Linked DNA regions of Homo sapiens. The protein of the gene in region 2 interacts with the protein of the main gene of each other region in a pairwise test. Each region holds a gene or a part of one and is shown on either strand. Other genes may lie near its edges.

Region 1 (3,812 bases), on a different chromosome or scaffold from region 2:
ATTTTCTTCTCAACGGACTTGAAGCTGCAGAAGGCAATAGGGACACAGCAGTGAGGGGCACAGGCCCGAGAGCCATGGTGGGCCACCCAGGAGCCCAGTCCTGAGTTGGGTGCTGTGCCAGAATCAGGGACTCAGAAGCTCAGGTGTGTGCAAGTGGAGTCCCCTGGCCCCTCTGTGGGACACACAGGCTTGTTGGCAGTGGGTATACTCCCAGCTCCCAGCCTGGCTGCAGCCCGGGGCCTTTGTGAGACTGGGGTGGGTGGCCCGCAGCCCCGGAAGCCCGGGGCACCTGATGGAGCTAGGCTTCTGGCGGAACTTGAGCACGGCCTCCTCCAGCTCCAGCTGCTTCACCAGGGCCTTCAGCTGCACCCGCCACTCCTCACAGTCCTCCATCTGCAGCTCCAGGTTCTCCTCCGTGTTCCTCTGGGCCAGGAAGCGGCTAGTGATGTCCTGGCCAGTCCGGGGGAGAGAGAAGCAGGTGTGGGCCAGGATGGTGGGCAGAGGGGGCTTCACAGAACTGGTTTCTTCTGGGCCCCTCCTAGACGCTAGTGCACTTTCTCTGTGCTCATTCACAAGTGTGATCACAGCTCACTGCAGCCTCAACCTCCCAGACTCAAGCGATCCTCCCACCTCAGCTTCCTGAGTAGCTGGGACCACAGGTGTGCACCACCACACTTAGCAGGGGTGAAGCGCTTTGTGGATGTCATTGCACACGACCCTAATGGCAGGCAGAGAGGGTAGATAACCCCATGTAGAGATAAGGAGATCATCACTGAAGGACGTTGTGTCACTTGAGTCACTTGTCTGACAGTGGACAAGCTTGTGTCAGGGCAGTGGTTAGGAGCTCAAGGCCTAATAATAATAAACGCAGATACACAGATGGGATTAAGATAAAAGGATTTGGGGCGGCCGAGGGAGTTGCCACTTTGTGTGTCCATTTCAGAGTGCCTCAGACCCCAGCCCAGCTCAGCCACCCTCCTGCCATGCTCCGGGAGTGCCAGGGAGCATTACCCAGACGTGAGAGGCTCAGCCACCCTCCTGCCATTCTCTGGGAGCGCCAGGGGCATTACCCAGACGTGAGAGCACCGTACAGCACTCTTGACCTTCTCCACCACAGCAGTCACGCCCGACTGGTATTCCATTTCTGCTGTGGAGGTCTCTTTTCTCCTCACTGGCAGAGCAGAGGGGAGGGGCAGTCAGCATGCAGGGATGGCTCAGGGGCTCTGTGTAAGGCTGTCAGACACCTCTGTACCTGCCCAGCTGCTGGGGCGGCCACCCAAGACACAGGCATCCTTCAGAGATGCCTGCCCCCGCCCCAACCTGCTCCCTCCTCAGCCCAGCCCTGCAGGGACGCCCCAGGCAGCCCCAGAGCAGAGGTGGACCCGGAGTGAGTGGCGCAGCACTGTGAGCACTGTGGGCCCGGTGGTGCTTCTCAGAGGCAGCTTAGGGGTCAGGATGCTCATCCTCTGCAGAGTCACTGGGGACTGGGCCCTTGGTGCAGGGCCCTTGGGTGCTGGGGCCAGCATCTCTGAGGCCACATTTGGCTACAGGCTCTCAGCCTCTGGAGGGAGAGGCAGGGACCTGTCCTTCCCTTCACCCTGGCGACCACATGTCACACCTGGCCTCAGGGTGACTTGATCCGTTGGCCTGAATCAGTGCCAGCCTCTCCTTGGGACCCTGGCTGGGGGCAGGTGGGGAGCTGAGCGCTTACATTTCAGGGTCTCCGTGCTCATCAGGTTCGAGGGGAAGTCCAAGTCCATCTGGCCCTGATGGGAGGTGGGGGCGGGGAAGGGATGAGACATCCTTGGCAGGGAGTGGGCCCTGAGTGGTGGCCCTGAGCCTGTGTCCACCCAGCTGTCATGGGGATGGGCAGCCAGCCAGGCCCTGGCCTGGGGCTTACCCGGCGGTACTTCTCGCTGGTCTCCTTCGTGTGGATCTTGTCGATCAGCTTCTTCTGCTGGTTGAGCCGGTTCTCCCTTGCCCGGCGCTCCTCGATGAAGGACGCCTCCCTTTGCCTCATGTTCCTCTGGGGACATGCGGGTGGGCACAGGGTTGGGGAGCTGTCTCAACAAGGCCCCTAATGGCAGTAAAGCCAGCGGGCGGTTGGCCATGCTCACCTTACTAGACTTTGGAACTGCATCCCCGGCCAATGGCCACACCCTTTTCCTAAACCACTTGTGCCCGTGGCCCCTCAGCTCACGGCCCTCCTTGCCCATGCCTCAGAGCATGTGCCAGCCCAGACGCTCTGCTGCCCTCCAGCCGCTGGCCCCCAGCTGCCTCCTGGCCAGGTCCACCTAGAACTCACGGAAGTGCATTCAGCCTGCCTGAAGACAGATTCATCCTCTTCCCCAAAACCTGGCCTCTTCCAGCGTGCCCTTGGGCAGCTAAAACCGTCATCTGCTAACCCCTGCTCACGCACCCCAGACACTGCTCTCACCCTCGCCACTCTCGTTGCCAGCGCTTAGTGGGGTTGCCTCTTGAGGAGTTCTCAGCTCCGTTGCTCCTGGCCACCCCTTCTCCACCCCGGGTATACCCAGGTGATCAGCGCTTCTGCCCTGGCACCTTCCAGTCCCTGCAGCCTGAGTACACCCTTTCTGAAGCACAGACCTGGTCACATCTTTCCTCCACCTCCTCCCAGGGCTCCAGGTCAGTCCTTGGGCCCCCAGCCCAGCCGCCTCCGTGGACTCCTGGGGCCTGTGCCTCTGCAGCCTCCACTGCCCTGGCCACACGCTGCTCCATGTATCACACCCCTCCCAGCCCAGGGCCTTTTCCCAAGTTGTACCTCCTCCTCCCTAGCCCTGGCCACACCTGACCTTTGCGGGTTCAATCCCTCAGCCCAGCTCAAGCACTGTCTTCCTGGAAAGCCATCTGCCACCCCACCTGTCTCTGCTGAGCTGGCTCAGGGGCTGTGTGGCATTTCTTCATGGACTACTGGATGAGTGCCACCCACTTCAGGAGGACAGGGTCTGCCTGTCCCGGTCCCTGCTGTATCCCCAGAGCCTTGCAGGGACCTTGGCACAGACTGGGTGAATAGGTGACCCCCGCCCTGGCCCGGCCAGTTCTCTCCCTCTCCTCTACTTCATGGCTCCTGTGCTGGATGGGACCTGCTCTGTCCAGTGGGTGAGCAGAGCAGGCTGGCCGGGCTGGCCACTGGATCCTTCTGGGGATTGTAGGCAGTGTGGGCATGGGGGTCTCCTGAGAGACCCTGGCCAGAAGACACAAGAGAGCCCGCCCTGGGGGGCCCCAGCCCTGGGCCCTGAGCTCACCTTGACCCCATCCGAAGATCCAAGAGGGCTGGCCCTGGGGGGCCCCCAGCCCTGGGCCCTGAGCTCACCTTGACCCCATCCGAAGATCCAAGAGGGCTGGCCCTGGGGGGCCCCAGCCCTGGGCCCTGAGCTCACCTTGACCCCATCCGAAGATCCAAGAGGGCTGGCCCTGGGGGGCCCCCGGCCCTGGGCCCTGAGCTCACCTTGACCCCATCCGAAGATCCAAGAGGGCTGGCCCTGGGGGGCCCCCAGCCCTGGGCCCTGAGCTCACCTTGACCCCATCCGAAGATCCAAGAGGGCTGGCCCTGGGGGGCCCCCGGCCCTGGGCCCTGAGCTCACCTTGACCCCATCCGAAGATCCAAGAGGGCTGGCCCTGGGGGGCCCCCAGCCCTGGGCCCTGAGCTCACCTTGACCCCATCCGAAGATCCAAGAGGGCTGGCCCTGGGGGGCCCCCAGCCCTGGGCCCTGAGCTCACCTTGACCTCATCCGTGATCATCATGGCATCTTGGGACATGATCTTCATATCCGACAGCTCTGAGCAGTAGT
Region 2 (3,812 bases):
ATTTTTTCTACCATTAATCTCTGTGGTTTATTATGTACCTTTTAGAAACTTTAAAATTAGTATCTTCATTGTGACTTAAATCTTTTGTATTTAATGTTTCATGACTGTAAACTTTACAGCATCTTTTTGTTATATGTACTGCCTTCCACAGAGCAGGTACTCAACAAATACTACTGTGGACACGAATGAAGACGGTGAATCACCTTCATCTCAGTGTGTGTAGAAACTCAGTTTTAAAGATGTATATCACAGCTGTGACAGTGTCATTAGACCTGGGCAAAATGCCACAATTAGCTGCCACCTTACCTCTGCTTTACGAATATTTTCTCTAGCTTCATCTATTTTCTGTTCTAGCTCTGCTCGGCTTTGTTCTGATACAGCAGCTCCATGACACTCCAGATCATTTAGAACCTATTAAAGAAAATGGGACAATAATGATGACTGTTTTTTACTTTTCATCTTCCTTAAGTGATTAAAGTATTTACATAATTCAAAGGGCTTTAGTGACTAGTAGCCATAATTTTTTTTCATTTATTTATTTTTTGAACATTTTGAAATAATTATAGACTTACTAGTAACAAACTTACTACAGACAGTCCCTTCAGTGGGGAAGCCAGGACCAGCCACTATCTGATTGCCGCCACATGAGAGACCCCAAGGGAAACTGCTAAGCTGAGACCATCCAATACTCAGATTAGTGAGAGATAATGTAAAAACCCTCTTGTTCTATGGCATTAAGTTTGAGGTGGTTTGTTAAGCAACATTACATAAGTGGAACACTGAATTTGAGACACCTGTGAGATAGTGAAAAGAAGATGTCAAAACAGGCAAGAGATTATATGGATACACAGTAGTAGCAAGGCCCAATGTTGAAGATGTTAATTTATGATTTGGTGGTAAAGTAAAACCATGGAAGTGACTGAGAATGCCTATATGAGGGTAAAGAATAAGAAAACAAGATAGCCAAGTATAGGAATCTGAGAAACTGAATATTTCATTGTGGGATGGAGAAAGAGGAACCCATGAAAAAATCTAGGTATGGCCAGAAAGGCAGAAGGAAAGCCAGGACAATGTTGAATCGTGGATGACTAGAGAAGATAACATTTTAAGACATGGAATTGTTAATTGTGATGAAATTGTTGACAGATTAAGAAAAATGAGAAATCAAAGTGTCCACTTGGAAGCTAGCAACACAGACATCATTGGCGATTTTGGTAAGCTTAGACAGGGGAAGGAAAGGACAGGAAAGCTCAAATGTAATGGGCTAAAAAGTAAGTGGGAGGTGAGATTCTATAGATAATAAGCATAGGCAATTCTTTTAAGAAGCAGGATGTGAAGGCAAAGAATGAGACGGATATAGGTATCAATAAATGAAACAGAAAAAAAGTACTATACTCCAAATAATTTCTTTGTGCTTAGAGTTTAGTCTTCGAGATATATTTTCTTTCTTTCTTTCTTTCTTTTTTTTTTTTGGAGACAGGGTCTTTCTCTGTCACCCAGTCTGGAGTTCAGAGGCATGATCTTACCTCAATGTAACCTCCACCTCCCGGGCTCAAGCAATTCTCCCCAACCTTAGCCTCCCGAATAGGTGGGAAGATAGGTGTGCGCCCCCATGCCCGACTAATTTTTGAATTTTTTGTAGACACCGGGTTTTTTGCCATGTTGCTCAGGCTGGTCTCAAACTCCTGGTTCAAGCAATCCACTTGCCTCAGCCTCCCAAAGTTCTGGGATTACAGGCGTGAGCCACTGCGCCCAGCCAAACATATATTTTCATGAAATCTATAATTGTGTCTTTCTTTTTTCTTTTTATTGAGACAGAGTCTCGCTGTCGCCCAGGTTGGAGTGCAGTGGCGTGATCTCAGCTCACTGCAAGCTCCGCCTCCCAGGTTCATGCCATTCTCCTGCCTCAACCTCCCGAGTAGCTGGGACTACAGGTGCCCGCCACCACACTCGGCTAATTTTTTGTATTTTTAGTAGAGATGGGGTTTCACCGTAACACATGTTAGCCAGGATGGTCTCGATCTCCTGACCTTGTGATCCACCCACCTCGGCCTCCCAAAGTGCTGGGATTACAGGCGTGAGCCACCGCGCCCGGCTATAATTATGTCTTTTAAAAAATATGTCTTGAGGGATGAAAACTTATATTAATTCAACATATGTCTCTTCCCCTGCCCATAATACACTATCACAATTTTCTTTGTTAATTTTATGGTAAACAGGTAAATTAATGTATTGCTGATGGAGGGCTTAAGGAAATTCCAACATGAGTAGATAGCTGACAGCACACTGCTGAGTGTTGAGAAAGTACAGAAAAAACACATATAATGCTTGAGCAAAGGAGTTTGAGACCAGCCTGGGAAACATGGCAAGACCCTATCTCTACAAAAAATCTAAAAAAATTTAGCCAGGCATAGTGGCATGTGCCTGTGGTCCCAGCTACTTGGGAGGCTGAAGTGGGAGAACTGCTTCAGCCCAGGAGGTTGAAGCTGCAGTAAGCCATGTTCACACCACTGCCCTTCAACCTGGGTGACAGAGCAAGCCTCTTGTCTCAAATAAAACAAAACAACACATATAGGATATTTTTCACATTAATAAAACTCAGTTCCTTAAACTGTTTGACATTTGGCTTAAGGTGAATGTAACTAGGACTTTCTCTTACACTTACCCGTTGTTGGTGAACAATGTTTTTATGCTCACGTGCCACACGTGTGGCCCATTTTCGAGCTTCCTTATTTAGACTGTGCTCCTCTGTGGTCCCAGTTTCTGATTCTAACTGTCGGCTCTACAATACAAGAGAGAACAGAGATAAAAATATTGCTATCCTTATTGTAACCACTACTGCTTTGTAGATGGATCAGAAGGCCTTCACTTAATCAGCACTCAAAACATGAGGCACGCTCCACTACTGCTGGAAGCAATGTCTTAACGTCACAGAAAGTTACCAGAAGAGTAAGATCAGCATAAAACCATTAAAGACCATAAGCTTTTTGTCTTACACTGCTGAACACAAAAGCATCATCTATAATACTGCAGACTTATCTTTTTGGGTGTGATGGACTTATCTTTCCGAGTGGGAAGGAAGCTAGCTAAGGTAAGCAAAGAAGAAAATGTATTCATGCCAACCTACTATGGTGATAAAATCATTGCATAAATAAAAATGGAAACAACTTAATAGTTTAAATGTGAGTAAAGAATCATTAAAGAGAAGTAAGAACAAAACAATATAATAACAGCAACACAATCTTGCACCCCTCCCCCTGCCCCAAGGCAGACGGAACTCTTTAGAGGTCCACCATCAACTTGCCACCAAACCTCAAAAGCCAGCTTTTGCTCTTTCTCCAGGCTTCATATGAAAGATAAGGGTGCTAGATCAAATGATCACCAAGGGTTTCTTCTAGCTCTAAAATGCTATGATTCTGATTTACAAAGAACAAACCACAAAATCTAAATAAAAATAGTAATAGCTAACTTCTATTGTGCAAGGTACTATGGAAAGTGCTTCATATAACTTTTTTTTTTTTTAACAACCTGATGATGTGGGTCCCACATCATTTTATAGAAAAGAAAACAGAGGCTCAGAGAGGTTAATTTTTCCTGGATGTCCTAGATGTTAAATGTTACAACCTTAATTGACCGATTCCAGAATCAGAGCTATTAAACACAAAACTATTTTAATTCTCTCTAAATTCTTAAAGACCCAAGAAAAACAAACTTTATTGAGATAATTAGGAATTTTTTTTAAAATATAAATTACCCAAAGAGGCTTTTAATATAGAAAGCAGCAAAATTGTAGAATGAAAAGAATTTTAGAA

Evidence for each region.
Region 1: the proteins of FCHSD2 (region 2) and CCDC183 interact in a two-hybrid assay, tested with the Homo sapiens proteins (one large-scale study listed by BioGRID).

Annotation. Positions count from the first base shown.
Region 1 is NC_000009.12:136,802,716-136,806,527, reverse strand, and holds part of CCDC183 (coiled-coil domain-containing protein 183), read right to left. Parts: coding exon 3,742-3,812; intron 2,602-3,741; exon of another isoform or gene 2,027-2,601; coding exon 1,901-2,026; exon of another isoform or gene 1,767-1,900; coding exon 1,712-1,766; exon of another isoform or gene 1,172-1,711; coding exon 1,071-1,171; exon of another isoform or gene 944-1,070; intron 479-943; exon of another isoform or gene 451-478; coding exon 290-450; intron 144-289; exon of another isoform or gene 25-143; coding exon 1-24.
Region 2 is NC_000011.10:72,887,164-72,890,975, forward strand, and holds part of FCHSD2 (F-BAR and double SH3 domains protein 2), read right to left. Parts: intron 2,783-3,812; coding exon 2,666-2,782; intron 412-2,665; coding exon 307-411; intron 1-306. UniProt on the Homo sapiens protein: Adapter protein that plays a role in endocytosis via clathrin-coated pits. Contributes to the internalization of cell surface receptors, such as integrin ITGB1 and transferrin receptor.